7 linked regions of the Homo sapiens genome follow. The protein of the gene in region 1 purifies or fractionates together with the protein of each later gene. This does not show direct contact. Each region holds a gene or a part of one and is shown on either strand. Other genes may lie near its edges.

Region 1 (4,077 bases):
AAAAGTATCCATGCTGTGAGGTTTTTTTCCTTCTTCTTCTTCTTTGAAAATATATCCTTCTCTATGGTTCTCTCCTTTTTCTTTTTGAATTTAAGCGTTCACACCATTTTTCATTTTTTAAGAACAGTGGTTCCCAACCCTGGATGCACATTAGAGTCATCTAGAAAGCTTTAAAAAATTATGTCCTACCTCAAGTTGAGTAAATCAGAATATCAGGGCCAGGCGCGGTGGCTCACACCTATAATCCCAGCACTTTGGGAGGCCAAGGCAGGCAGATCACTTGAGCTCAGGAGTTTGAGACCAGCCTGGGCAACATGGTAAAACCTGGTATCTATAAAAAAAAAAAAGTAAAATAAATAAATAATATATTTATATATATTTATATAAAAATATTATATAAATAAATAATAAGAATACCAGGGACTTGGGTGGCCTTAGTTTCAAAATGTCCTCAGGTGTCTCTAGTGTGCCCTAGGATTGAGAGCCACTAATGTCAAGTGTGTATGTCCTTTTGTATTTTAGAGGTGGGATTGCAGATGTCTGGAATGTCTGTGAAAAGAGTCATGGGATCTGCTAACTAGTAGAAAGCCTCCTCTTGAAAAACTGGGAACTAAGAAAAGGAAAGAGACTTTATTCCCTTTGATACCTTTAGAACCATTTCTCAGATATCCACTTTATCTAAACAAGAAATGGTAATGATTGGTGTAAAAAACTTCCCACCAAAGAAAAATGCACTGTGAATTACCTTTCAGAGACAACTGAGACTCCATGTAAGTTCACATTTGCATGGGTACTTGAACCAAATTGCATTTAAGGTTTTCCAGCTGCAGGATCCCTCATGTAGGATCTATCTCTAACATTTCCTCCAAATTTAAGACCCGTGGTAGCCTGATTCTTGATTCTCACCCCCCCCCCTTTTTTTTTTGAGACGGAGTCTCGCCCTGTCACCAGGCTGGAGTGCAGTGGCATGATCACAGCTCACCGCAAGCTCTGCCTCCCAGGTTCAAGCGATTCTCCTGCCTTAGCCTCTCGAGTAGTTGGGACTACAGGCGCATGCCACCACACCTGGCTAATTTTTTTTGTATTTTTAGTATAGACGAGGTTTCGCCATGTTGGCCAGGATGGTCTCGATCTCTTGACATTGTGATCCACGTGCCTCGGCCTCCCAAAGTGCTGGGATTACAGGCATGAGCCACTGCTCCCGGCCTAATTCTCCTTTTGTTGGGCATAAGTGAGAGGAGGGGAGATGTCTTAAACGATTTCGAGAACTTGGTTGACAGGCCCTACCTTGTGGGAAGAGGGAATGGCCCGTCATGCTCTCAGATCCCATCTCTCCTCAAGTCATTTCAAGGAAATATGGACAGTGGTCAAATTAGTTTGCGAGCATTTCTTTTTTTTATTTTATTTTATTTTATTATTATTCTTTTTTGAGACGGAGTCTCGCTCTGTCGCCCAGGCTGGAGTGCAGTGGCACGATCTCCGCTCACTGCAAACTCCGCCTCCTGGGTTCGCGCCATTCTCCTGCCTCAGCCTCCCGAGTAGCTGGGACCACAGGGGCCCGCCACCACGCCTGGCTAATTTTTTGTGTTTTTAATATAGATGGGGTTTCACCATGTTAGCCAGGATGGTCTCGATCTCCTGACCTTGTGATCCGCCCGCCTCGGCCTCCCAAAGTGCTAGGATTACAGGCGTGAGCCACCGCGCCTGGCTGCGAACATTTCTTACAATTTTCATAGGCATATGAAATTTTACCATCACAACTATCAAAGTATAACAGCAGTGTGGAGATTTTCATCATTCAAGTGATAAGTTGTGACATGAAATTCTGCGAAATTTGCAGTTACAAAATCCAGCACCATCCCTTTAGACAAGTAGACTGCTCTGTTCCCTTTTTATGGAGAGCCTTGGTGACTTGCTCCAGATCGTACAGCTGTTCTGTTCTGTCGTTAAGTTTTGTCAGAGCATCAGAGGAACACTTCCATAACCTCAGCATTTCTTTGGCTGGTTGTTTTTGTAATTAGTACAGAGTTCAATTCTAGAGCCATGCTGGAATTGGTATTTTTTGGAGTCACAGCTTTGAGGGGAATCTATTTGTTTTTCTCCTAAAAGGTAATAATTACTAATGGAAGGTAAAACTTAGTGGTCTATTTATACCTCACTTACTTCCAAAAGTGATTTAAAGAAGGTTCGTGATCTAGCACATTAAGTTAGAGAAAGTAAAGGAAATTGAAAGCAAGGAAAGGAAGAGAAAGTGAGTTATTTTCTCCAGGTTTTTATTTCTCCATATTTGAATTCATCTCAAGCAGATAGTAAGCTGTCATTCTTACCAAAAAGGAAGAATGAGTGGTATCTCTAGAAAGACAGAAATTTTCCTGGCACCAGATTCTAAAGGTTTCTCCCTTGGAATATTTTACAAAGACATTAAATAGGAAGGTGGACAATAACTTTAATAGATGCTTTATAACAGTTGCATATGTAATTTTCATGAGGATGTTTCTTACAGTGACCTTCGATAAATGATTGCAGCTTCACTTTAACATGCAATGCGGGGATTCTATGTAGGACAAAGGTAATGCGTACCAGGAGCACTTCCCTGAGAAGAAGAAAAAGAGGAGTAGTCAGTTAGCTATACCCGAGGGGGCATTTGGATACCCACACCATTTATTGGCCATCCTTGGCCTAAGGTAATATCCAACAACTGTGGGTTTTTGCAGCAAACTGACTTAAGTATCAGAATAATGGGTAAATATTATGCCCTAAACCAGTGGTTCCCAAATATGGCTGATCTTCAGGACCAGGTAGGGAGCTACTTTGAAAATATGGGTCCCCCACCCCTTGAGGTCTGATCAGATGGTCTAGGGTAGGAAGTAAGAAATCTCAGTTCTTTCCAGGTAATTCTGAGAACCACACAGGCTTGGAACCACAGCTTTAGACTGCCTTCGTAAATGTCACTTCTCTTAGCTGAGTTTTCAATAAAAGCTATAGGGCTGGCCTTTTGTATACACTTAGATTATAAGGACTGTCTTTAGGCCAGATGGGATTTTTCCCCAGACAGGGACTTTGGTTCTATTCCAAAACTGACAAATGCTTATTTGACATCCTGGGAACTAGGGCCAAGTTCATTCAGATCTAGGAATCCCTTGAGCAGAATTTTAACCTCATTAAATTAGTTCCTTGTTTAATTCTCTGCATGCTTCATACTTATAACATTTTGATTCACTGTTAGTGTTGCCAGTCAGGTTGAGTCTTTGCTCTTTGTTCTATCAGTAGTTGGGAAGAGGGATCTAATTACAAGGTCTCTAATTGAATAATCCAGGAGGTCATTTGGAAAATAGAAAATTTCACGTTAATGAACGTTGATGAAGCATTTCTGAGCTGAGCATGGTGTATGCTGGGCATTCTGTAAGCATTATCTCAGTAGGTGCTTAGATAGACATTACAGACATGGAAAGTGAGTATTATTAAACATTTAGTCATTTCAGGGCCATTGTTGTTTTTTCCCAACACGTCCTATTCTTCAACTTTCTTTCTTCCTAAATTCTGTGGACTCCCCTCGCCAAAAAAAAAAAAAAAAAAGTTTTTGTCTTACCAATTTTTAACTAGCAACCTAACCAGGAAAATTTTGTTTATTTGGAACCTTGAACTACATTTTTCCTCCACATTGTATGTTAGGAGAAGGAAGGAAGTAAGAAAGTAAACTCATATGAAGGATTTTTGAAATATTACTCAGGTACAGCCTGGTCAGCTTAGCCTTGGTCCAGTTTAAACTATGAAAATAAAATTGTTCTTCATAATGGTTGGCCACCTTCATTAAATAAGAATTAAATGATGCAGGTATGGTAGCTCACACCTGTAATCCCAGAGCTTTGGGAGGCTGAGGCAGGAGGATCACTTGAAGCCAGGAGTGCGAGACCAGCCTGGGCAACATAGCGAGACCCCGTCCCTACAAAAATAAAATTATCCGGGTGTGGTGGCATACGCCTATGGCATGCGCCAGCTACTCAAGATGCTGAGGCAGAAGGATCACTTGAGCCCGGGGAATTCAAGGTTGCAGTGAAGTATGATCATACCATTGCA
Region 2 (4,077 bases), on another chromosome or scaffold:
CCAATTAAGTGGAATATAGGTTTTTCAAATTGTGAATGTTTTCCACAAAATTATTATACTCAAGTAAGCATACGAGTGTGTTTTCCTTTCTTGAATAATCTCCATTTCCTTTTTTTTTTTTTTTTGTGAGACAGGGTCTCGGTCTATCACCTAGGCTGGAGTGCAGTGGCGTGATCTTGGCTCACCGCAACCTCTGCCTCCCGGGCTCACGTGATCCTCCTACCTCAGCCTCCTGAGTAGCTAGGATTATTGGGTGCCCCACACCTGGCTAATTTTTGTATTTTTAGTAGAGACTAAAATACACTACCATGTTGGCCAGGCTGGTCTTAAACTCCTGACCTCAAGTGATCCACCAGTTTTGGTCTCCCAAAGTGTTTGGATTACAGGTGTGAGCCACCATGCCCGGCCTCCATTTTCTTTTGATTGTGTTTTTTTGTTGTTTATAAGTAGGAGAAAAAAGTACACATTAGAATGACTTGTAGAAGTTTTGCAGGAAATAAGGTATAAATTAAAATAATTTACATTTGTTGCTAATTCATCATCCAAACTGAAGCTGAGATGAGAGGACAAATGGAAGCTAAAGGGAAAAATTATATGTAAGTTTTGATTTGGGGTTAGTAAAGTAATCCTGCAATGCAGTACCTCTCAACCAGGGGTTATTTTTCCCCTCGGGGACATTTAGCAATGTCTGGAGAGGGTTTTGGTTGTCATAAGCAAAAGTGCAACTGGTATCTGGTGGGCAGGGGCCAGAGATGCTGCTAAACATCTTGCAATGCACAGGACAGCTCTCCACAACAACGGATTACCACAACTCAAAGTGCTAATGTTGCCAAGGCTGAGACACCCTATGAAGGAAATGGTGCAAAGCATACGCTTAAATCTTCACTCTTATATTCATCTTCATCCTGTTCTTTTTCTTCTTCATCTTCTTCAGTCTCCTCTTCAAGCCTCAACCAGTACCATGCTTCCCTGGGAACCTGAATATTCTGAAAATGCAGAAGTAGTCTCAATTAAACATACTAAACATAAGAGCATGACAAATATGTTCATGTCAACATGAATTCATTCTTTCAATACGTATTCACTGAGTGTGGCTTTAAGAGTAAAAACACTGGCCGGGCACGGTGGCTCACGCCTGCAATCCCAGCACTTTGGGAGGGAGAGGTGGGTGGATCACGAGGTCAAGAGATCAAGATCATCCTGACCAACATGGTGAAACCCCATCTCTACTAAAAATACAAAAATTAGCTGGGCGTGGTAGTGCATGCCTGTCGTCCCAGCTACTCAGGAGGCCGAGGCAGGAGAATTGCTTGAACCCAGGAGGTGGAGGTTGCAGTGAGCCAAAATCACGCCACTGTACTCTAGCCTGGTGACAGAGTGAGACTCCATCTCAAAAAAAAAGTGAAAACATTGTACCATGAACTATGGGGATGCAAAGTCCAATTCTTTAGAATTGTGCAGTTGTCTTTAAGTTCCTTCTGACAGTCTAGCAGGAAAGATAGGCTATGGGTACAAAATAATACATATATGCTACAAAATCATAAGTGCCATGAAATACATTCAAAGTAAAGTAATATGTAAGAACAGGAAAGTGAGAGATTGCTTCCAGTAATCTATATATAAGGGAAATTTTACAAAGCTTTTTGAGACTTCAAATGAAGTCATTTTATTTTCAGAGTACTTGAACCACTAAGATAAAAGCAAAGACAGAATTTATTTACTTATTTATTTTTTTTGTAGAGCTGGGGACTTGCTATGTTGTCCAGGCTGGTCACAAACTCCTGGACTCAAGCAATCCTGCAGCCTCGTCCTCTCAAAGTGCTGAGATTACAGACATGAGCCACCATGCCCAGCCAGAGACAGAATTTTTTAAAAACTATTCAAATTTGAACTAGATAGCATTCCACCTTGATTTTATTTTTGAGACAGGGTCTCACTCTGTCACCCAGGCTGGAGTGCAGTGGCATGAACATAGCTCAATGCAACCTCAACCTTCTGGGCTCAAGTGATTCTCCCACTTCAGCCTCCTGAGTAGATAGGACTACAGGTGTGTGCCACCACATGCAGCTAATTTTAAGATGTTTTGTAGAGATGGAGTCTTGAAATGTTATCCAGGCTGGTCTCGAACTCCTGGGCTGAAATAATCATCCTGCCTTTGCCTCCCAAAGTGCTAGGATTACAGGATTGAGCCATCATGCCTGGCCCACTCTGATTTTAATAGTTAGACATATATTAGATACTGAATAGGAACTGAAAATAGGCTATTCTTGTTAATCAAATATTATAAAGAACAGAATTTCTGCACATAATAGTCATAACTGATATTCAAATAAGCAGAGAACAATTAAATGTAAAATTTTATTTAACCCTTTTTGTTTTACTATAGTTAGTATAAAACTATAAAACTATAGTTACTATAAAACCCTGGGTTTTATAGTAACCCAGACAACTCAGGTTACTATAGTAAATAATAAGCCATTTTTATATCAATTGTCACAGATCAGAAGTGCACATTACATGAAAGCTTTAATGAGTAGATAAACCGGGCTTGGAGTTCTTAGTTTTATATATATATATAATATATATATTATATATATAAATACATAAAATATATATAATATATAAGACATATGTAAAAAATATATAAATATATATGATACATATAAATATATGTAATACATATATAAACATATAATACATATATAAATATATATAATACATATATAAAATATATATATATATAATAAATAAACGGGAAATCACAGGGGGTGCCAAAACACTTTACTAAACTGAAAGCTGGTAAAAGGCTTACTTTCTGGACATCCAGTTGTTGACAGGCTCGCTGGCTTCTTCTGAGATCTCCTTCTAGCTTCATTTCATCTTGCTTATTTTTAAGTCGCATTCTAATTGAAAGAAAAAATTGTAAACTAAAGGTCTACGTTATCTTTAACCATTTTATATGCCCAAGTACCAGAGAACATACCACAATAAAGAGGAAATAGAACCAAAACCAGCTCAAAAATAGTTTTACCGAAACTGTTCTGCAGCTTTTTCTTCAGCTTGGTTTTTCATGTGAATCTTTTTTCTGTAGCTTTCCAATTTTTCCTCTGCTTTCCGTTTTAATGATGCCTCATGACCAATGCCACTTTTCCCTATTCAAACAGAAAATTCTGATGAGAAACATCCTGACTTTGTGCTTCAAAACAAGACGATTTAACTATGTACAAATTAAATGCAATTCTCATTTGAGTACTATCACTCACAAATCATTTGAGTACACTAATAGTAGAAAACACTAGGGTTTTTTTTAAGCCCAAAACATAATCTGATTTTTACAAAGATTGTTAATCTCATCTTATAGTAATATTATAAACAATTTTTCAAATCAGAAAAACAGTATTAGCTGTTATAGTTTTATTTAAATATGAATAAAATATATCTTTTTCTCTTGAATTCATCCAAGTATTAAGCAAAACATTTGGTAGATAAATCTGTCTCAGAACACTTTTATTTTATTTTATTTTTATAGGGACAGGCTGGTATGTAGTGGCACAATCATGGCTCACTGTAACCTCGAACTTGTGGGCTCCAGGAATCGTCCCGCCTCAGCCTCCTGAATAGCAAGGACTACAGGTGCGTGCCACTACACCCGGTTAATTTTTTAAATTTTTTGCAGAGATGAGGTCTTGCTATGTTGCCCAGGCTGGTCTCAAATTCCTGGCTGCTTTTTTTTTTTTTTCCTTGAGATGGAATTTCACTCTTGTTGCCCAGGCTGGAGTGCAATGGCGCAATCTTAGCTCACTGCAATCTCTGCCTCCTGGGTTCAAGCGATTCTCCTGCCTCAGCCTCCCAAGTAGCTGGGATTACAGGCATGCACCACCATGCCCGGCTAATTCTGTATTTTTAGTAGAGATGGGGTTTCTCCATGTTGGTCAGGCTGGTCTTGAACTCCCAACCTCAGGTGATCTGCCTGCCTCGGCCACCCAAAGTGCTGGGATTACAGGTGTGAGCCACCACGCCCGGCCAACTCTTGGCTTTAAGCAATCCTTCTGCATCGGCCTCCCAGAGCAAAACAGT
Region 3 (4,077 bases), on another chromosome or scaffold:
ACTACAGCTAAGTGGTTGTGGAACTCACTCTCAAGGCTAACATTTCTCTAGATGATTTTCTCCTAACTGCTTTGCTTCTACAGGTTTCCATTCACTCATTCTCAACTACAGAAACACTACAACTCAAATTTATCTTCTACTAAGTTGCCAGGCCAGTGTTTTTCAAGTATACACAAAATTCTTATACACTGACAAATTTAAGCTGTCACTCTGTTTTATAATAATCTAACGGTTTTGTTTCATTTCTTTACCTTTACAGGTAAATATTTTAGATTTTGTAAGCCATACAGTCTCTGTTGCAACTACTAAAATCTGTCTATGGCGAAATACACAGATACTCCATCATCCTATGTTAGCCTAAAGACCCCATGAAGAGATGTAGGCTGCTGAGCCTGGGCCACCAACCCACATCTCTCTCGGCCCCTCACTGATCACTCCCTGGTCAATGTAACATATTCCCTCAGAAATGGCACTCCTGGGGCGGGAGTGGTGGCTCACACCTGTAATCCCAACACTTTGGGAGGCTGAGGCGGGTAGATTACCTGAGGTCAGGAGTTTGAGACCAGCCTGACCAACGTGGTGAAACCCCATCTCTACTAAAAAAAATACAAAAATTAGCTGGGTGTGGTGGTGCATGCCTGTAATCTCAGCTACTCTGGAGGCTGAGGCAGGAGAATCGCTTGAACCTGGGAGGTGGAGGTTGCAGTGAGCCGAGATTGCACCACTGCACTCCAACAGGGGCAACAAGAGTGAAACTCCGTCTCAAAAAAAAAAAAGAAAGAAAGAAAGAAAAAGAAAAAGAAACAGCACTTCTCACACAGTCTTCCTCCTGGCACCATCTAGGTTCCCTCCACTTCTACCACTCACTGTCCACCTAGTCCTGCAGCTCCTAGACACCAATGCCTTTGCCTCTATTCCCCTTTAGCCACATGCCTGCAGTCCTGTTCAGTCTGTGGACCTTGGCATTATCAGAAAAAACTTTCTGCCTCTTAAATCTTAAACTTGATTATTCTCTTATCCAACTACAACTTTCTCCCTTATAGTACTTTTACTTCCTTCTCCCCAGAGACCCATTTGGCAGCTTCATCAAAACCTCCGGACCTGATGTATCAGATTCTATCCTTCTGCTACTCCTTCGCCACAAAACTAATGGTCACCCCACAAAGCAAAACCCCAACAGCCCCGTGCTCTGTGCTCACCTGTCAGCTACAGTACTACTGGAAGAGGTCATTTGATTGTGTCATCCATTGCCAATATATGTCAGCTGGACCCATAGCACCCCCTGCAACCATCTTCCACAAGTCTCTGTTGGCTCTCACCCATTCTTCACAGCAATTAAATCAAACCTTCACTGCTCTCCTAAAGCCCCACTTGTCTACTGGCGCTCAGCAAACCATTTACCCTGTTTCCCAGAGAAAACAGGCCAGCAGACAGGAAATCCCTCAAATATCTGTCCCCATTTACACACTCATGTGCATCACTACCTATCTTCATCTCCTTCATTTTCATGCTTGTGTAAGATGGGTCCTTCTTCACTTAAGTTAATCCCTCCACCTGGGATCTGAATCATCCTACCTTCCATGGGACCTTGAGCCATCAACTATTCTTCCTGCTTCTCTTTGACCCTTCCCCTTCTACTCACTCCTCTCAGCAATTTTAACCATGCTTAAGTTTTCCCCATGACCCAAAGACACACAACACCCCTCACCATCACCACTACCACACACCTTGCCAGATACTGATGTTGCTCTTTCCTTTTCTTCACAGGCAATCTTTTAATAAGTTGAATTATCTGTTTGCTTTTCTTGTATCATATTCATTCTCTAACCAACTGTAGTCTGGCTTCTACCCCCACCACTCCACTGAAATGCCCCTAGCATAGGTCACTAATGACCGGTTGGATACTAATTCCCATGGATGTTCCTTATTTCTTGATAATAAAAAGAATAATAATATGAAACATGTATATAGCATTTACTATGTGCCAGGACTGTTTTAAGTACTTTACACATATTTATTAATTTAATCCTCACGACACCCCATGGGTAGGTACTATCATTACTCCCTTTTTGCAGATGAGGAAACAAAGGTTCAGAGAAGCTCAAGTAACCTGTCCAAGTGTATTAATCTATTCTCACGCTGCCAATAAAGATATACCTGAAATTGGGTAATTTATAAAAGAGGTTTAATTGACTCACAGTTCTACATGGCTGGGGAGGCTTCACAATCATGGCGGAAGGTGAAGGAGGAGCAAAGTTATATCTTACATGGTGACAGGTAAAGAGGGCGTGTGCAAGGAAACTCTCCTTTATAAATCCATCAGATCTCATGAGACTTATGATCACAAGAACAGCATGTGAAAGACCTGTCCCCATGATTCAATTACCTCCCACCAAGTCCCTCCGACGACATGTGGGAATTATGGGAGCTACAATTCAAGATGAGATTTGGGTGGGGACACAGCCAAACCATATCACCAAGACTACACAATCTCTCTCTAAGCACTTGCCACTTTCCAGAAGGAAGCAGGGAGTCTATCTTTTCCTCCCATCTCTCTGACCTCTCTTGGTCTCTTTTTTGCTCTCTTCATCTTCTACCTTGATTTTGACATTCCCTATGATTTTGTCTTTTTGGCCCTCATCTCATGCTGTACAATCTCCTTAAGGTCATTCTGACTCATGGCTACATGCTAATGAACTCTTATCCAGGATGTACCACACACACCTCAAACTCGACAGGTCCCCAACTGAACTTGTCAACCCTAAACCTGTTCCTCCTCCCTTGTTTTCCTTCTTAATTAGAATGGTATCGGCCAGGCACAGTGGCTCACACCCTTAATCCTAGAACTTTGGGAGGCCAAGATGGGAGAATCGCTTGAGCCCAGGAGTTCGAGACCAGCTTGGGCAACATGGCGAAACTCTATCTCTACAAAAAATTTAAAAATTAGCCAGGTGTGGTGGTGTGCACCTGTAGTCTCTACTACTCAGGAGGCTGAGGTGGGAGGATCGCTCCTGCCTGGGAGTATAAGGCTGCAGTGAATTATGATTGCACCACTGCACTTCGGCTTGGGCGACAGTGCAAGACCCTGTCTTTTAAAAAAAAAAAAAGCAAAAAAAAAAAGCTATCTTCACTTATTCAGTAGATGAGGCTAGAATCTGGAAGACATTTCATTGTTTTTCCCTTTAGTTCCTGTACTCTGAGTTCCTTAAATTATTTATTTATATGTACATGGGTATATACACATATACCTTTATTCATTATCTCTCAATTCTTTGACTTGAGAATTATTCACTAATAATTCTGAATTACTCAATTATTCACTATCACTTGAATTACTCATTACCTCTCAATTCTCCTACACACTGACGTCACTCAGCTTATGCTTCCATACTACCCGTGCCCAATAGCCTTACCCATCTCTCTGCCCTTCTCTCTCTCTCCTGGATGCTCCAAAACTTTCTCTGCTCTACTGGCACTGATCTTTGCCATCATTTCACTTAAAAACTTTCAGCGGGGCCAGGCGTGGTGGCTCACGCCTGTAATCCCAGCACTTTGGGAGGCCGAGGCAGGTGGATCATGAGGTCAGGAGATCGAGACCATCCTGGCTAACAAGGTGAAACCCCGTCTCTACTAAAAATACAAAAAATTAGCCGGGCGCGGTGGTGGGCGCCTGTAGTCCCAGCTACTCGGGAGGCTGAGGCAGGAGAATGGCGTGAACCCGGGAAGCGGAGCTTGCAGTGAGCCGAGATTGCGCCACTGCAGTCCGCAGTCCGGCCTGGGCGACAGAGCGAGACTCCGTCTCAAAAAAAAAAAAAAAAAAAAACTTTCAGCGGTTCCCCAAAGCTTTAAGTATAAGTGAGAACTCTAGCATAGCCCATAAGACAATTTGCAACGTGGTCCTGCTTAAACATCCAGCCTCATCATTCAGCACTTAGTTGGAGGTGCACACATCTTGAAGAGAGAAGTTAGCTGCTCATTTTAAATATGCATGCAACCAGCTGCTACTTACCAAATCATTTTACATTCAAGTCACTTAATGCCACAAAGTCTGTTTATTTCTATAGATAATGATTTTCC
Region 4 (4,077 bases), on another chromosome or scaffold:
CACTTAAGACTCAAATAAAGTCCTTTAAGTATTATTAACCCTTTCAAAAACCAAAAACCTCAACTTTTTTATGGGTACACTACCAGGGGATATGAGCAGAACCAATAGCAGAGGCCAAAAAAGGCTTGACTAGTCATAGCTCAGTAATCTCTCCGAATAAATAAAATGAGAGTCAACTGTCTCCCTCAAAGAAAAAAACCTGGAATTTCCCTGACAGGGACAAAAGTGGGAACCTCAAAACAAAAAATACAAGAAATGTGCTTCTGGCTGTTGTAGAGAACCCATGTAATATAGACAACTAAGGATAAGATGGTCTTTCTTCTGAAGCCATAGAGCAACTCTGAGAAATCAAGTCCAGATACTGGCTTAGAACAGTATTTGGTAAAGATCCTCAATTTCAATGAGGGAGAAAACCAACCATGACTACAGCCTGGTAAATATAATTCAGCTAGAAAAAAGAATGAGGAAAAAAAGGTAAGTTGTCCAGAGAAAGCTACCTACAGAAGGTTCAAAGAAGACAATGCAGAAATCCTTACAAGAGAAGCTGTTCAGGTTTTGGCTAGATGTCATATCTACATTCATTAGAAATTTAAACTTTTATTAACTCGTTTGTCTATGTGTGTTTTTTTTTTTGAGATGGAGTCTCGCTCTGTTGCCCAGGCTGGAGTGCAATGGTGCAATCTTGGCTCAATGAAACCTCCGCCTCCTGGGTTCAAGCAATTCTTCCTGCCTCGGTCTCCTGAGTAGCTGGGATTACAGGTGCTTGCCACCATGCCCGGCTAATTTTTGCATTTTTTAGTAAAGACAGGGTTTCGCCATGTTGGCCAGGGTGGTCTTGAACTTCTGACCTCAGATGATCCACCTGCCTCGGCCTCCCAAAGTGCTGGGATGACAGGCATGAGCCACCGTGTCTGGCCTATGTCTATGTTTTTGATGGATGAAGTTTTCTTTCAATTTCCTAAAAGCTTATGCTTAAAACTTCTAACCTACTCTCTGCTGAGGTTCCCAGGGAGAAACTCTTTAACCCAGCTCTAAAGCTGGGCATGAAAGGATCTATTAATATGAATCCTCTGAAATTATATGTAAAACTTTTGTGTTTGTACTTTTTTTCTGAGAAGGGGATCCCAAGCATTCATCACCTCAAACCAACTCACTTACTGGGTAGCAAGCAATCTGAGGGTAGCTGTGGAGACTAATCTCTTTTAGCCTAAGCCTTTTCTTTACACTGCATTTCAACACTCTAAAGAGAGGAAATCTCAAGAGTAAAAGAGCCTCACTCAGTGGCATTTATAGATGTTCCTTGACTTACATGGGGTTACATCCCGATAAACCCATCATAAACTGAAAATACCGTTAAGTTGAAAATGCAGCCCAGCGTCTGATAAAAGAATCACTAGTACTTAAAGTCTAAAACCTTGTGATTGTGTATTGTTTTCACAACACCATAAAATTGAAAAAATCCTAAATTAAATCATCATTAAGTTGGGACCATCTGTATTTACTAAATAATAATTTTTTTAATTAGCCACAAGACAATCTCACCTATAAATCGCCAGGTAATTCCAAAGGATGAACCCCTAGCTAAGATAGTGTCTTAGTGAGACTCTGGTGTATCTCAACAGGAAATATCTAACAAATGAAGTTGAAACGAAGCAAATTAGCCCAATGTTAAATGTAAAACTTTACCTTTCCCATGTAACAGTTTTCACAGGTTTTTCTTGAAGAAAATTAGTAACATGCTTATGAGAAAAATAATAATTTCATTCTTTAATTCACTTAAACTGTAATGCCACTTACTTTGATTATAACAATCACTGTCTTTCCCAACTGCAGTTCTAGCTTGTTTAATTATCTGGAATTGTGAGTCCTTATCTGTCAAAAAAAAAAAAATCCATAAATACAATATGAATCATCAGTGACCACAATTAAATTATTAACTGGTTTCTGATCCAAGCCCTTTGGGCACGTGGACAAACCTTCCAGAATCTTAAGAAACATCCACATCCCTGTCTATGAAATCTGAACACAGAATCCTTTCAGATTTATCTACAGCCCAGTAAGTAATCAGACTTCAAGCAGTTCATGCCTATAATTAGGCACGCAGCAGTAGCAGCGACAAATTTTACTGACCAATAATAGCTAACATTCTTGAAGCCTGTGCTGTAATGGTCACAACTCTGTGACCCTCTAGCTGACTCCAGCTAAGTGCCTGACACTATTCTAAGAATATTATATATATATATCACTTAATCTTCGCAAAGTGCTATTATAACCATCTCCATTTTATAAAGAAATTTAGGCAACAAACAGGTTAATTACCTCGCTGAAAGTCACATCTTTCATGATAAAAACAGGAGTTGAATCAGGACATTCTTTTTCCAGAGCCCAAGACTTTAACCTCTATATATGCTGTCAATCCCTGGAACACATGTCCATCTTCAGTCTCATCCTTCAATCTGTGTCACATGCTCAAATTTTTGTTGTAACTGAGAAAGAAGGTGTCTGCTCTACTATACAAAGCTTTGTAAGGTTTTCACTGCCTATTAATACAAGCCTGGTCTCTAAACTTCAGATTATGTGAATTAGTTGCCTTGTACATTAATTAATTCTACATTCTCTTAAGGTACTAAATGTCCTTGTCATAAGCATGCTTATACAATCCATTCTTTTCATAATGCAAAAATGAAAAATCAATATCTACACTAAGATATTTTTAAATTATAATAACTTAATACTTACTCAAAGTAATCGAAGGTATCTTCACATTTTCATAGAAAAACTCAGGATTATACATTTCATCCTGAAAAAAAAGAATCTTACTGTTCTTAAGTATCAGATAATTGACTATTTTAAGACTTGACCTAAACAATAGATTAGTATCACTTAATTATTTCTCACAATAATTTGTGCAATTAGGCAAGTACCAACCAACCCTTCAAGTAAGGGCTATTATTTTGTCAGTGAACCTCACATTGTAACTTCCAAAAATTGTGAATTAATGTGTAAAATGCATGACATATATGTATATATAATATAGTAAATATATGGTACCTCTTCTTCTTTGGTATAGCCCATTTTCCTCAATCTACAAGATGCCATGTGCTTTGCCAAAGATGATTTAGGCATGTGATGATTGGAATCGTATGGACATATCACAACTTCATCCTATAAAAATCAAACAGAAACAAAGAAAATAGGTACATAATATTTAAATAAATAATTACCATTAAATGTTTACCATTTAATTATGTACCAGTACTGTATAGTGCATCCTCTTCTACAGGCCTCTCTCAACCCCCATGTAGTTGTGTATTAAAGAAAAATAAAACTCCTTCAACCCCTAACTCCCTAAATGCCCCTGTCCTCTCTCCACTCCTTCAAAGCCTAACTCTTTGAAAGGTGTATTTACACTCACTGTCTAAACAACCTCACCTCACCTATAACGATTCCTCACTCATTGCCACCATCACCCCACTGAAACCAGTCAATAGGTCACTAATAACCTTGTTACTAAAGCCAAAAACATGTCACTGTCTTGTTTTATCTGAACTCTTGGAAGGTCACACTCCAATTGTCCATCTGTGATTCTGACACACCCCTCATGTTCTTTCTACCTCTCTGGCTTCTTCTACTTGGTCTCCTCTAAATATCCTAAATATCTGTCTTCCTTGCTCTATTTGTCCCCCTTTAGATGTTGGTTTTCATGTAAGTATTAATATAACCACTGACCTTTTGCTGTTTAATATATGCTTACTGAAAGATCTCAAAGCTACAACTCTCACTATACAGTGAGGACTCCCAAAATTTAGATCTTTAAACCTTGTTTCTCTCCAGTACCGTATATTAAAGACACTAAAAGTTCAACACAAACAAAAATAAATTAATTATATTCATCATCTCCCAACCCTCAAATCTATTCCTTTTGTACTTTTCTATTTCAGTGAAAGGTCCCCCTTGCTCAAGCAAGAAACTACTTCTCCCTCATCACCCACGTCCAATCAATCACCTAGTCCTGCCAATTTAACTCCTAAATATTTCTGAAAATCCCTCAACATCCTCCATCCCCACTGCCACTTC
Region 5 (4,077 bases), on another chromosome or scaffold:
TGAACTGAAATTTGAGACATATAGCCCAAAATAAAAGTTTGTTGTCTGTTTCCTGTTTCTTTAGCAACGGGTAATGACTTGCTTCAGAGCATGGGAAGATTGGGCAATTTATCCAGAACCATTTTTGATCAAACTACAAAATATTTTCTTAGGACTTGTAAATATTATTGAAGAAAAGGAAACAGAGGTAGGCAGTCTGTATTTGTCTGGTTGTTTTTAAAATTCGTTTCTGGGGTGGAGGTTTCTTGGAGTTGTTCTGTGTTACATATGTGAGGTACATTTCTTTGTGAAAAATATCTATTGCTTACCATTAAGTAGTGGATTTTTATTGCTGGAACCCAGAAGTCAAAATTACATGTAACAGGAATTCTCTGTCTTGTGTCCTTATGTGAAAATTGGTGAGTGTTTTTTTTATTTAATGATATAAGAGTTATGATATATTGTTAATAGTAGAAAATAAGCAAGTAATAGAGCAATATGTATAGCATGACTTTATTTTGTTAAAGATAGCTATATAAGTAAAATATGTGCATGAAAAGATGCATCACATGATAGCAGATATACATCACCATTCTGTTGTTTTTTTTCTTTTTTACCTCCTAAATAATTACTGAATCCTTAATGTTTAATTCTGCCATGCTAGTCAAGCTATTATGTTTTCACTTTCACTCCTGCAGGATCTTCCTAATTGGCCTTACTGTTGCAACCCACGTGGTCCTTGTTTCAGTTTCTTAAATGTGTGTTTCCACCTACCATTGGACTTTGTACATGTCCTTCCCTCTTTCTGGGACTTATCTTCACCTGAGATCCTTCAGATCTCAGCTCAAACATAACCTTAGCCTTCTCTGACCTCTTTAAGTGAAACTTAGTATGCTAATAGTATGATACGCCCTTTTGCTGTAGCAGTTACCATAGTTACAGATAAGTATATATTGTTGTGATGATCTGATTTCCTGGTTCCCCCACCCCTGCAAAACAACAGCAAAAACCTTTACCAGGCTCTATAACAGGGGGACCAAACTTGTTTTTGCTCATCATTGCCTCACAAGGTACCTGGCACCAGTGAGCACTTGGTAAATATTAGATAAATGCACAACTGACTGCTTCTTTAGCAAACTGGATGATAGAATATGTTCTTACATTGTACCTCAGATTGTGGGTATCCAGTTATGTTGGCTTGTACTGGATTACAAATTAATCTTACAAGCAATGTGACTTCAGCAAGCAAAGGAAAATGTTATAATAGTACACATTTCCATAGGATGTTCCAGATGACCTTGATGGTGCCCCCATCGAGGAAGAGCTTGATGGTGCACCTCTGGAAGATGTAGATGGAATTCCTATTGATGCTACTCCCATCGATGATCTTGATGGAGTCCCTATAAAAAGTCTTGATGATGATCTTGATGGAGTGCCTTGTAAGTTCAGATTTCAAACTGATTAAATCTAGCTAATACATTTGGTGACCAAAACTCTAATTTCCATACATGCTGATATGGAAAAAGGTTATAGTTTCTCATGAACGTATCAAGTTATTAACTTTTCTATTTCTGATTTTTTTCAAAATTCATATACCCAGTAATACATTTATTTGTATGCTATGTATATAAAAGGCCAAGAAGAAGCATTTTTTTCTGGTCACATTTCTTTGCTGGGACAATCAGCCTCCTATAATATTAGCAAGTTTCTCTTTTTGTCTTGTCAGGAAATTATAGGCAAAATCTTGTGCTCAGTTATGCATGATCCTAGGTACCTGGTTTTATCAGTTTTTATTAGTTTTTCTAACTTACAACTTCAGTTTTCCTAGCTGCCTAAAATCATTTTGAAAATAGGAACTGTAGACAGCTCTTTGGTACATTTGAATTATATGTTTAAATATTGAATAATGTATGCAGTTTTATATTTCAGAGATTAGGTAAAGATATTAAAGATTTGTTTTACTTCTCAACTTCTTCACTTGCTTAATATATTACTAACCTGTATTTTCTGAATTGATATATATACTGTTAAAAATATTGCCCTCAGATGCAGAGAATTGGTTTAGTCATAGTCCTTGTTCTTAGTATTACTATTTGTCCATCTGTGTCCTTATTTTACTTTGCTTTTTAATAATATGGTGAATACCCATGAATGTAATACTTCGGGTCATCCACTAGTAGTCAGGGTTAATGGCTTATCTTTCCCTAATAGTGGATGCAACTGAAGACTCAAAAAAGAATGAGCCTATATTTAAAGTTGCCCCATCAAAATGGGAAGCTGTGGATGAATCTGAATTGGAAGCACAGGGTGAGTAAAAGTAAAATAAATATTTTTTAAATTAAGTACTTGTACGTTAATTATTGGTGTGCTTGTATATATGTTTTCCTTTTATGTTTTATAACACGTTTTAACCTTAATGCTCAATGTTGTCATATTTTGTGTCTAATGTATGCTTTTATTGTGGTTGGTGTTGCTGTTACAATTTTCTTAGGTCCTTCAGTTTGGAAGCTTTGAGAGTAATGAGATATCACTGAAAACCTTTCAGGTTAAGGCATTTTAGTAGCAAATGTAGATTGGAAGCTGTACCTACGTAGAAATCTACATAGAGGTCAGTTTCATAGAAACCAAGCTTTGACCCTCCCATAATGCTAGACTGATTAGATGCAATTTAGACCTGTCTTTCACACTTACTTAGACCTGTATCCTAGTGCTAATAATCTAATTGTTGCTATTTGTAGGTTCTAATGAAATAAATCTTAATATTCAACACAGAAATAAGGATGACATTATTCGTCACTTCATGAATTTGAATTATATTGTAGGTGTGAGGAAAGAGATTTGGCATATAGAAATAACTATTTAGAGAATTGATAAACATAGATTAAAAAAACTTCTGTAATATAAACTTTTCAATTCTAAAGCTTGAGCTTCCACTGTACTACTGAAAAAATGCTAGTTTACCTCGTGGAATTACATCCTCCTTTTCCTTTCATTCAGCTGTTACAACTTCTAAATGGGAATTATTTGACCAGCATGAAGAATCAGAAGAAGAAGAAAATCAAAAGTAAGAATCTAAGTTTTGAATATACTGTTTCTTGTTCATATACACTCCCCTTTTCATTAAGAGATATAGTTGAAATAATAGTGAAGTGGAAAACTTCACTCTTAAAAAATTTTGGGAGAGGATCATTTTTAGTTCTCCATTGGTTTTCCAGTGAATAAAGAGCTTTTGTTTTCTGGTCTTGATGGATCTGGTTTCATTTTGCTTTTGAGTTTTTTACGCTAGGTTATATTCTCACTTTGTAGTTACTAATTGGTCAACTGCATTTTTTTCAAACCTTTGCCATCAAATACTGTTTTGGGCTCCATAAAAAGTGGTTTTTAAAATGTGAATAGGAAAGGTTATACTCCTTTCTTTTGGATTGTACATTCTAAGAAAAAGATTGCATTATGGCCATTGTGTTATTTAAATATAAACCTTTCAGAAGAACTAAGAATGAATACAAAGGAAAAAATCTTTTCTTTTGAAATATAGAGAAATAATAATTTTGATTTTGCTGTTTGGTAATCACCCCAAAATTGTTTTTGTATTTGACACTGTGTGGTTGTAGGAATCTCTCCTCTCAGATTCTCCTGCAAGTCTGTATTGGCAGTTTTTAGGAAGTTCTTGACACTTTTTAAAATCATTGCAAAGGGAGTTGAATTTTTTTTTTTTTTTTTTTTTAAATGAGTAGGAAGAGATGGTATCACAAACACAAAGCACAGGTTACTGTCTTTAAAAATTTTGCGTTCTTCTATTCTCCAATGGAAGTGGGAACAAAGAGAAAACCCCTGTGTGTCCTAGCACAATATGGGCATTTGTGTGGATTTAATAAATGGGCATTTGGATTGTTGGGAAAATGTGATCAATCAGCAGGCTATAGAAACACAGTTTGATACGATGGTGAAAACTTGTCTACAATGATGTTTTTTCAGAAATGTTGGTGTGATTAGAACAAGTCAGCAATGATGATGACAAAATATTTACATAATGTTATAGATGTGGCTTGCTAATGGAAATACCTATCTGAGGCTGTTTAGGAATACACAAATTGAGAA
Region 6 (4,077 bases), on another chromosome or scaffold:
AAACAACAGAAAGAAATAAGGTTGAAGTGTGTATTACTCAATCCTGGCTCATACAACAGGAAAGGGTAATACTTGTATAGCAAAACAAAATTTCCCCATCAGCCACGAGTTTTGTATATAGGACAACAGGATTACCGGAGAGCCAGGTGGATTGGAGGTTTGATTATACAGCTGAGGACTCTGGGACACTACAGCCGCTGAGGTGGTGGTCACTGCTGTGCCTGATGATAAACACAAGTGTTAGGGAAAGCCAAGGCACTGAACGCCAACCCAAACATCTTTATTTGTAATGCCCAATCTAGCCTTCTTCTGTCATTGTATATGTCAGTTCTTCATAAGCTAACTTCCACTAAGTACCCTGGAATCTGTGACATTTTCATTTTCTTATAATTCTACTAGATGTGATATACAAAGTTAAGGATTCTGTATCATGGCTAAGAAAAAGAGAAGAGGCCGGGTGCAGTGGCTCAGGCCTGTAATCCCAGCACTTTGGAAGGAAAAGGCGAGCCGATCACGAGGTCAGGAGATTGAGACCATCCTGGCTAACACGGTGAAACCCCGTCTCTACTAAAAATACAAAAAATTAGCCGGGAGTGGTGGCAGGCACCTGTAGTTCCAGCTACTTGTGAGGCTAAGGCAGGAGAATGGCGTGAACCTGGGAGGCAGAGCTCACAGTGAACCGAGATAACGCCACCGCACTCCAGCCTGGGCAACAGAGCGAGACTCCGTCTCAAAAAAAAAAGAAGAGAAAAGGAAGAGAAGAAAGGATCTATATTTGCTCTGGGGTTGAGAAAGATTTAACTCACAAGGCTTTTTAAAGCCTGAAACAAAAATTAAAGCCAAGGCTTCTTAGAGTAGCTCTTCTGATTGATGTCTGAGCACCAGTCTCCAGGGCCACATCCTCTCTGCTCACCTGAACTTACGTGGGCACTCACGACTCCAAACACAGAGAGGGGAAATACAGAGTTGAATTCCAAGAATTAAACTCATCACAACATGGTCTCTAAGACCTTGTATTAACTCCTGGTGTACACAAATAACCGTATTCTTCCCCAGAACCTTGGGTACATGATGACAGCCCTGAATATGCCCCCTACATTCTTTTTTTTTTCTTTCTGAGACAGAATCTCACTCTGTCGCCCAGGCTGGAGTGCAGTGGCGCAATCTCAGCTCACTGCAATCTCTGCCGCTCGGGTTCAAGCAATTCTCCTGCCTCAGCCTCCTGAGTAGCTGGGATTACAGGCGCCTGCCACCGCACCTGGCTAATTTCTGTAGTTTTAGCTGAGATGGGGTTTCACCATGTTGGCCAGGCTGGTCTTGAACTCCTGACCTCGTGATCCACCTGCCTTGGCCTCCCAAAGTGCTGGGATTACAGGCGTGAGCCACCGTGCCCGGCCATGCCCCCTACAATCTTACAGAGAAATGGACTTGTAGCTTTTGGTCCAGTTAGGACATTTAATCATATTTCTTCAACTGTAAGTGCTTAAACAAAAGGTAAAAGGGAGATGAAGTTTACTACCTGATGCAGATGATGCATCAGATTCCAATCCTCCAGCTTGTTGTTGATAAAACTGCTGATAATCCTGTGAATACTGAAGAAAAGTCCACCATTAAAGCTGCTATTCTCAGACACACTCTGCAAGACTATAAGGTGGATGCTGCTAAAATCTACCTACCTGAGCATATTGGGCATAGCCATCTTGACCTGGTTGCAGATAACTGTAGTCAACACTGCCTCCTTCACCACTTTGAGACTACAAAACATCAAAATGAGACAAAGACAAACTTAGTAGGCATTAAGGAAAAAAATTCAGAAGTCCCTAAAAATGAGCTCATGATGCTGGGCGCTGTGGCTCACGGCTGTAATCCCAGCACTTTGGGAGGCTGACGTGGGTGGATCACCTGAGGTCAGGAGTTCAAGACCAGCCTGGCCAACGTGGTGAAATCCCATCTCTACTAAAATACAAAAATTAGCCAGGCGTGGTGGCAGGTACCTGTAATCCCAGCTACTCAAGAGGCTGAGACAGAAGAACCACTTGAACCTGGAAGGTGGAGCTTGCAGTGAGCCAAGATTGCACCATTGCACTCCAGCCCGGGTGACGAGAGTGATACTCTGTCTCAAAAAAAAAAAAAAAAAAAAAAAAAAAAAAAGAAAAGAAAAGAGCTCATACTGCGAGTACCACAGGAGAGGTCACGTCTGTGAATCTGGGCACCACCACCACACTACCTTGAGCAAAAAGATCCTCGATCTTACCTGGGTGGATGACCACTGAGCAGCAGCAATAGCCGTACTAGCTACAGAGAAAGCGCTGACGCGGTTACCATCTGAGAGGACCAAGTCTCTGAAACCACAAAGATCCAATCATGTGATTCTATCACAGTATTCCCACAATTAGTGCCCCTATACCACCAACTGATTCACTCCACCCTTTGTCAGTTCTCAAATGCCAGCAAGGCCACATTTCACAGGGGGAGGGCTCTTCATGGGGAAATTCCTCAGTAAGCAAGTGGCCCTGTAGTATCATTGTTCTACCTTGTAACCTGCCATCTAACGAAGAGTTTTTTGAATGTGCAATGATACTAAAAAAAGGGAAATTTACCGTGTTAGAGTTAAGCACTATATACATGAAATTATTAGCACGCTGTTCTGGAAGGAATGGGTTATTTCTGGATGGGTTAGCACTATACTGCTGCAGTTTGCAAAGCATGTGTTCTCAACCCATCTGCCATACTTGCCTTTCTCCTGATCTGAAACCATTTCAGGCAACTTCATCAACTGGTTACACAGGACAGTAGGGAATAATCACTAAAAGAAGACAAACGTGTCCCTCCTGGCCTTGGCAATCAGGGAGGATCACAGTGTCTCAACATACTTGGGGCACAGGCTTGGCGTTCAGTTAGCACACTGTACAAATGTGCATATGCAGTAGTTTGAAATAAGGACAATGAAGCCACTCACTTTCTGGCACTTTTTGCAAAATCAACCCCAATAGTTTTGCCATCAATTTTCAAAGGAGGATGGAGACTCTGTAATATCTGAAGCAGCTGAGAAGCATCCTGAAGGAGAATGTGAAGGAAAAAAACGTGTAATGCAATTAAAAATCTCTCCCTACCATCCACCCCATTCAAAGAAGTAGTTTTCTATTAAAAAATAAAAGGCAATTAATTCCTTATTGTGTTTGCAGATATGAAACCTCAAGAAAGGAATATCTCTCTTTCCTCTAAGATGTGAAGGTTTCCAGTATTACCAAAAGAGCAAATGCTAAACCAATCTAAAACAAAGTACATCTAGCACTTGGGAGGCTGAGATGAGCGGATCACTTGAAGTCAAGAGTTCGAGACCAGCCTGGCCAACATGGCAAAAACCTGTCTCTACTAAAAATACAAAAATTAGCTGGGCGTGGCTGGGCGCGGTGGCTCACGCCTGTAATCCCAGCACTTTGGGAGGCAGAGGTGGTGATCAAGACCATCCTGGCTAACACAGTGAAACCCCATCTCTACTAAAAATACAAAAAATTAGCTGAGCATGGTGGTGAGCGCCTGTAATCCCAGATACTCAGGAGGCTGAGGCGGGAGAATGGCGTGAACCCTGGGGAGATGGAGCTTGCAGTGAGCCGAGATCACACCACTGCACTCCATCCAGCCTGGGCGACAGAACGAGACTCCCTCTCAAAAAAAAAAAAAAAAAAAAAAAAAAAAAAAAAATAGCTGGGCGTGGTGGCGGGCACCTGTAATCCCAGCTACTCAGGAGGCTGAGGCAGGAGAATCGCTTGAACCCTGGAGGCAGAGGTTGCAGTGATCCGAGATGGTGCCACCGCACTCCAGCCTGGGCGACAGTGAGACTCCATCCCAAAAAAGAACAACAACAACAAAAAACAAAGTACCAAGGACTAAACTGTGGCTCAAAAAATTCTGCCAGTTGCCTATAGGTATACACATTATTTTTACTACTTACTGAAGTCATCAGTCCTGTAATTTAGCAGTGCAAAAACTGTCATTAGGGAGCCTTGCATCTTGGGCTTTAGGAGCCTCAGACAGTTTCAAAACTGGATGAACCACATTTGCCTCTTAAAGCTG
Region 7 (4,615 bases), on another chromosome or scaffold:
GCCCAATGACCCCTCCAAGTTAACAGATGACAAGTGAATTCATCCTATGCCTTTGCAAACATCCTCTGGATCCTCATGTCAGCTAATATAACAACCCAAATAACTCAATCCTCAATCTAAATATCCTGAACTATTCTCTCTCAACCCCTATATTATAAAACCTACAAACTCAATCTCTATTGAATATATATTTACTTCCCCCTTTGTCTTCTTACTGTCTTCTTCAGATAGTTATTCTTGCCTTGGCCATTATAACAGCCTTCCATTTGGTCTCCTACCTCTAATAATTCTGCACATCCAATCCATGATATGAACTATACCAGATATCTTTAACAGGCCTGATCATATTATGAGCCAGCTCAAAAGTATCAAGTGTCCACCTACTAAACCAAACTCAATACCTCTCTCCCAGACTCAAATCTATTTTTCAAGTTCCATTTCCATCTCAACCCTTAGCTCCTGCTCCACTTATAACTTCCAATGTCTCACAGCTTTATTTGGTGTTCTGCAAGCCCAGAAGGCCCATCTCCACTTGTTTCCTTCTGAAAAAATCCAATTAATCATTAGACTTCTAGCTAAAAGATCACCTCCTGTGAATGATTCCCTGGCATTATAAAGAAATGTATATTCTCCTTTTAACACTTGAAACATCTTACCTTGTAACAGTCACAGAGATATTTATCAATCTAAATCATTTAGAAATTGTTATTTTAATTACATACGCAGTTAGTTTTTCTTTATAGATAATCTACTAAAGGACTGGGCAAGATCTGCCAACTGACAAATCAAATGTAGTCTGTTGGGGAAACTGTTGGAATACAAACGCTTTTGCTTCTTAAAAACCACAGTTAAACATTATCTGAACCAAGATTGTATAAGAGGATCCTGTTGACAACTTTAATCGTCAAGAAAAAGTCATACCTTTATAGCTGCTTTTTCATTAGGGAATGTGGCAAAAGCTGTATGTTTCTGAAACAGAGTTAAGGTACAAATTACTTCCAATATAATTTCAGTTTCTCACAAAGAAATCTGACTTTTTACCAGTGGAGTAATGTGACATGTTAATAAAATCACGGGAAAGGATGAAAACTCAAGACCATTTAACTGATTACTAATTTCAGTCCAGTGGTTTTCAATACTTTTTGAGTCAGACTTGAGATGAAAGCTATGCAACCTCTATCATATAAAGACACACGTTTTACACATGCAAATAGTTCAAAAGACCAAAAGTTTAAAGACCTGTTCTACACAGAGGGTCACTTTTAACCAACTAAAAATTTATTTCCTTCATTTATGACAGATCTAAAGATTTTAAACTTTCCTCTATACATAACAATGCGTAGTTTAAAAACATTCACCAACAGAGAAATCGTTCTTCAAGGTGCATATTTCCTTTGTGCTTTATCTTTGTAATAATGTTCAATGGGAGAAGTCTATTTTTAAACATAAATTATACGGATTTTAAAAACCATCAGAAAAGAAACACAAATCAACAGTAAAAGAATCACTATGCTAAGGAAGAGCTCTGGTCAATGCTTATTAAAAGTTACTTTAATAATTATATCGCACATTCTAATTTTGTCTAATCTGATACACGATGACCTGATGTACTTAAATTGAGCCATATATAATTTTTTTTTTTTAATTTGCAGGCATAAGTGACATTTAAACTGATCAAAATTGGTCTTTCTTCTAATTCAGTAACTCTCAACTTGGGCTGCACATTAACATTAAAATCACCTAGGGAAACTTTAAAACCACTGAGTCTTGCACCATCGCTATTCCTATTTTAATGAAGAGAAATCTAAAATATCTTTGGATATAAAGCAAAACAAAGTAATTGTGTAAATTCCTACACAGGTACTCTTAACAGCCCTAAAAAATTGTTCCCTAAAAGATGTCATCGGGAAATTTTTATGAAAAGCCTCTTTTTCTAGTTGAAATTCTGCATTTAATTTACGCAAGTCACCAATGTAGCTTCTCCTCTATTTTAATGAACGATTTAACATTGGCTTATAAATGAAGTAGGACTTTAAAAAATCCCTTGATGCACATTTGTAAGAATACTCTTGAGTCCAGGAGAAATAACCCCAAATTCAAAAAAGTTGTGAGGCTCTCAGGATGGATCCGAAAACTCAATATAACTAAGCTAATTTCCATTCTTCTGCTTTGTCGTTCTCACTTGCCCTTTTCTGCAGTGCTATGACTAATCCAGACTCGAGCCGATTAAAACTCCACTTCGCAGAGCAGATATTTTGATAAAAAAGAGGTAGGATGGGGGAGCTCTCATCACACAAGTCCATCTTCCCCACTCGTTTCCATTTTACTCTTGTCAGCGCTCCCCCTCCCCGGTCACTTCCCAAATGCCTTCCCGGGAGACTCCGGAGGGGCGCGCCCTTACCAGTCGCCCCTTATCTGACAGGACCCGCACAGACTGAGCCCCGAAGTACTTCAGCAAGTCCTCTTTCTCCTCAGCAGTAAGCTCAGCCGGCAGGTGCCTGACCAGAAGGGTTCGGTCGCCCCGAGGCGGGGAAAGCGAGGAGGAGCTCGTGCATCCCCTTGATATCGCAAGCGGCTGCTCGGGAGCTGCCATTTTCCTTGGAGAAGCAAAAACAGAAATCGTGGGAAGAAGTCTCAGTCAAAATCGCGGCATCAACACAAGCTGGGAGAAATATTTTTTCCGCCTCGCGCTAAGGATTCTGGAAACCAGGAAATACCGAGAAAGAAAGTCACCTTCTCGCGAGAACTGCGCCACCGAAAAGCGGCAACCCTTCGAAGACTCTTCGGGGAAGGGCGCGGTGCTAATGATTTAAATTCCAGGGGTCTCCGGAAAGACTTACAAGCAAAAATTGGCCCAGAGATGTGCGAGGGTTAACACAAGTTGTCAATCAAAGAAGGAAACAGGAACCCCAGCCACTTCAGGGAAAGAAGGTTGACGCTCAAGGACAAGAGGACTCACGACTGCGCATGTGCGGGCTGGGACCGTCACAGGGCGGGGCGGGGCGCACGGCGGGGCGGGGCGCACGGCGGGGCGGGGCGCACGGCGGGGCGGGGCGCACGGCGGGGCGGGGCGCACGGCGGGGCGGGGCGCACGGCGGGGCGGGGCGCACGGCGGGGCGGGGCGCACGGCGGGGCGGGGCGCACGGCGGGGCGGGGCGCACGGCGGCGAGCGCTATCTGGAGCTGACCGTGCGGCTCTTAATCCCTGGCCTTGGGAAAGTGAATTGGCCTGAATAGCAAGGAGGAGAACTTGGGTGTGGAAATACCGGGTATGTTCTTACAGTATTTAGATGGTAAAATATAAAGCTAGCCAGTTATTCTGTCAACTCATTAGACACCATTGTAGGGAGGAGAACTCAGTTTAAGGGGCAAAACGTTGAGAGTTCAGACTTTTTTCTTGAATCAGTAGGCATTTAGCAGACGGATAGGCCCCTGCCAGGGTTCATTTCGCAGAAATGGCAGCCTCTAGGGAGAGGTAACCTAATAAATAAATTATTGCATGTGTGTGTATGTGTGTGTGTGTAGGGGTGTGTGTGTGTGTGTGTGTGTATGTGTGTGTGTGTGTAGGTGTAGGTACTTTTCTCCCTATTTTACAGCTGAGGACACTGATGTACAAAGAGGTTAAATCACACAGCTAGAAAGTGGAAGAACTAAGTTTTGACCCTTGGTGTTCTGACTGGGGGTCTACATTCTAATCCACTGTTCTGCCTAGATTCTGAATGGAGTGAGGCAGGGATCATCCCCGGAGGGTCAGGAATGTACCCCTCACCCCATACAGAGAGGGCCTTGAGGATTCTAAAGAGAGGTTTTATGCTAGATGTAGCTGCTACAGTCTGGAGAACCAGAGTTCCTCTTACAGTTCTTTTTGCCACTTAAATAAATGTTAGAGATACAGCAGTAAGCAGTATACCAGCAATCTGCTGTCATCCCGCATTGGTTGGGGAAAAGGAGAGAGACAGATATTAATGAAAACTAGAAGACAAACATGAGAAGAACCTTCCCCACACACCCACCAAAATATCAGATAGGTAGAGCCAGACCACGTAGACGCTGTAGATTTGTTAGGAGCCCTTTTTATTTGAGGAACATTTAGAAACTGACAAATTCTTTAAGTAGGTGTGTGTTGAGGGGAGAGAATCAAAGTTTAGGTATGAAAATTTCTCCGGTTGCAATGCAAAAAACAGAAGCAGAAAGACCAGTTGGACTACTGTAGAAGTCTGGAGAAAAACACTACCATAATAGTTTGGTGAAAGTGGACATGTAGAGAAGGAACTGGAATTGAGATACGTTTTAGAAGTAGTTGATAGGAACTTGCAGATGAAGAATAGTAAGCAAGGATAAATTCTGGATTTTTGGCTTAAGCTAGATATTATCCATCTGTAGATGATGATGCCATTTACTGAATGTGAGAAGATTGACCAAGTATAGCTAGGTTAGAAACTGTAGTGGGACATTGGGAATAGAGGAACATATATTAAGTTTAAGGTATCTATTCAGTATCCCTGTTTCAAGTAGGAAGTTGAATGTGTGTGTTTGGCATTCTTGGGAAAGGTTACCACGAGGTATGGCATCAACCTATATGGTATTTATATCTGAAGAATGACAAAGGGTATAGA

Evidence for each region.
Region 2: the proteins of ZRSR2 (region 1) and GPATCH11 purify together in Homo sapiens (affinity purification with mass spectrometry; 3 studies listed by BioGRID and IntAct, with this or other methods). This does not show direct contact.
Region 3: the proteins of ZRSR2 (region 1) and PDCD7 purify together in Homo sapiens (affinity purification with mass spectrometry; 3 studies listed by BioGRID and IntAct, with this or other methods). This does not show direct contact.
Region 4: the proteins of ZRSR2 (region 1) and SNRNP48 purify together in Homo sapiens (affinity purification with mass spectrometry; 3 studies listed by BioGRID and IntAct, with this or other methods). This does not show direct contact.
Region 5: the proteins of ZRSR2 (region 1) and U2SURP purify together in Homo sapiens (affinity purification with mass spectrometry; 3 studies listed by BioGRID and IntAct, with this or other methods). This does not show direct contact.
Region 6: the proteins of ZRSR2 (region 1) and RBM5 purify together in Homo sapiens (affinity purification with mass spectrometry; 3 studies listed by BioGRID and IntAct, with this or other methods). This does not show direct contact.
Region 7: the proteins of ZRSR2 (region 1) and RNPC3 purify together in Homo sapiens (affinity purification with mass spectrometry; 3 studies listed by BioGRID and IntAct, with this or other methods). This does not show direct contact.

Annotation. Positions count from the first base shown.
Region 1 is NC_000023.11:15,810,519-15,814,595, forward strand, and holds part of ZRSR2 (U2 small nuclear ribonucleoprotein auxiliary factor 35 kDa subunit-related protein 2), read left to right. Parts: intron 1-4,077. UniProt on the Homo sapiens protein: Pre-mRNA-binding protein required for splicing of both U2- and U12-type introns. Selectively interacts with the 3'-splice site of U2- and U12-type pre-mRNAs and promotes different steps in U2 and U12 intron splicing.
Region 2 is NC_000002.12:37,090,991-37,095,067, reverse strand, and holds part of GPATCH11 (G patch domain-containing protein 11), read right to left. Parts: intron 3,153-4,077; coding exon 3,032-3,152; intron 2,928-3,031; coding exon of another isoform or gene 2,904-2,927; coding exon 2,813-2,903; intron 987-2,812; coding exon 873-986; intron 417-872; exon of another isoform or gene 308-416; intron 1-307.
Region 3 is NC_000015.10:65,123,662-65,127,738, forward strand, and holds part of PDCD7 (programmed cell death protein 7), read right to left. Parts: intron 1-4,077. UniProt on the Homo sapiens protein: Promotes apoptosis when overexpressed.
Region 4 is NC_000006.12:7,592,822-7,596,898, reverse strand, and holds part of SNRNP48 (U11/U12 small nuclear ribonucleoprotein 48 kDa protein), read right to left. Parts: intron 3,166-4,077; coding exon 3,052-3,165; intron 2,801-3,051; coding exon 2,740-2,800; intron 1,873-2,739; coding exon 1,798-1,872; intron 1-1,797. UniProt on the Homo sapiens protein: Likely involved in U12-type 5' splice site recognition.
Region 5 is NC_000003.12:143,035,918-143,039,994, forward strand, and holds part of U2SURP (U2 snRNP-associated SURP motif-containing protein), read left to right. Parts: intron 1-64; coding exon 65-187; intron 188-1,261; coding exon 1,262-1,418; intron 1,419-2,190; coding exon 2,191-2,286; intron 2,287-2,976; coding exon 2,977-3,043; intron 3,044-4,077.
Region 6 is NC_000003.12:50,105,747-50,109,823, reverse strand, and holds part of RBM5 (RNA-binding protein 5), read right to left. Parts: intron 3,058-4,077; coding exon 2,960-3,057; intron 2,343-2,959; coding exon 2,255-2,342; intron 1,755-2,254; coding exon 1,677-1,754; intron 1,593-1,676; coding exon 1,520-1,592; intron 222-1,519; coding exon 136-221; intron 1-135. UniProt on the Homo sapiens protein: Component of the spliceosome A complex. Binds to ssRNA containing the consensus sequence 5'-AGGUAA-3'. Regulates alternative splicing of a number of mRNAs.
Region 7 is NC_000001.11:103,524,049-103,528,663, reverse strand, and holds the start of RNPC3 (RNA-binding region-containing protein 3), read right to left. Parts: upstream 2,966-4,615; 5' UTR 2,594-2,965; coding exon 2,402-2,593; intron 970-2,401; coding exon 922-969; intron 1-921. UniProt on the Homo sapiens protein: Participates in pre-mRNA U12-dependent splicing, performed by the minor spliceosome which removes U12-type introns. U12-type introns comprises less than 1% of all non-coding sequences. Binds to the 3'-stem-loop of m(7)G-capped U12 snRNA.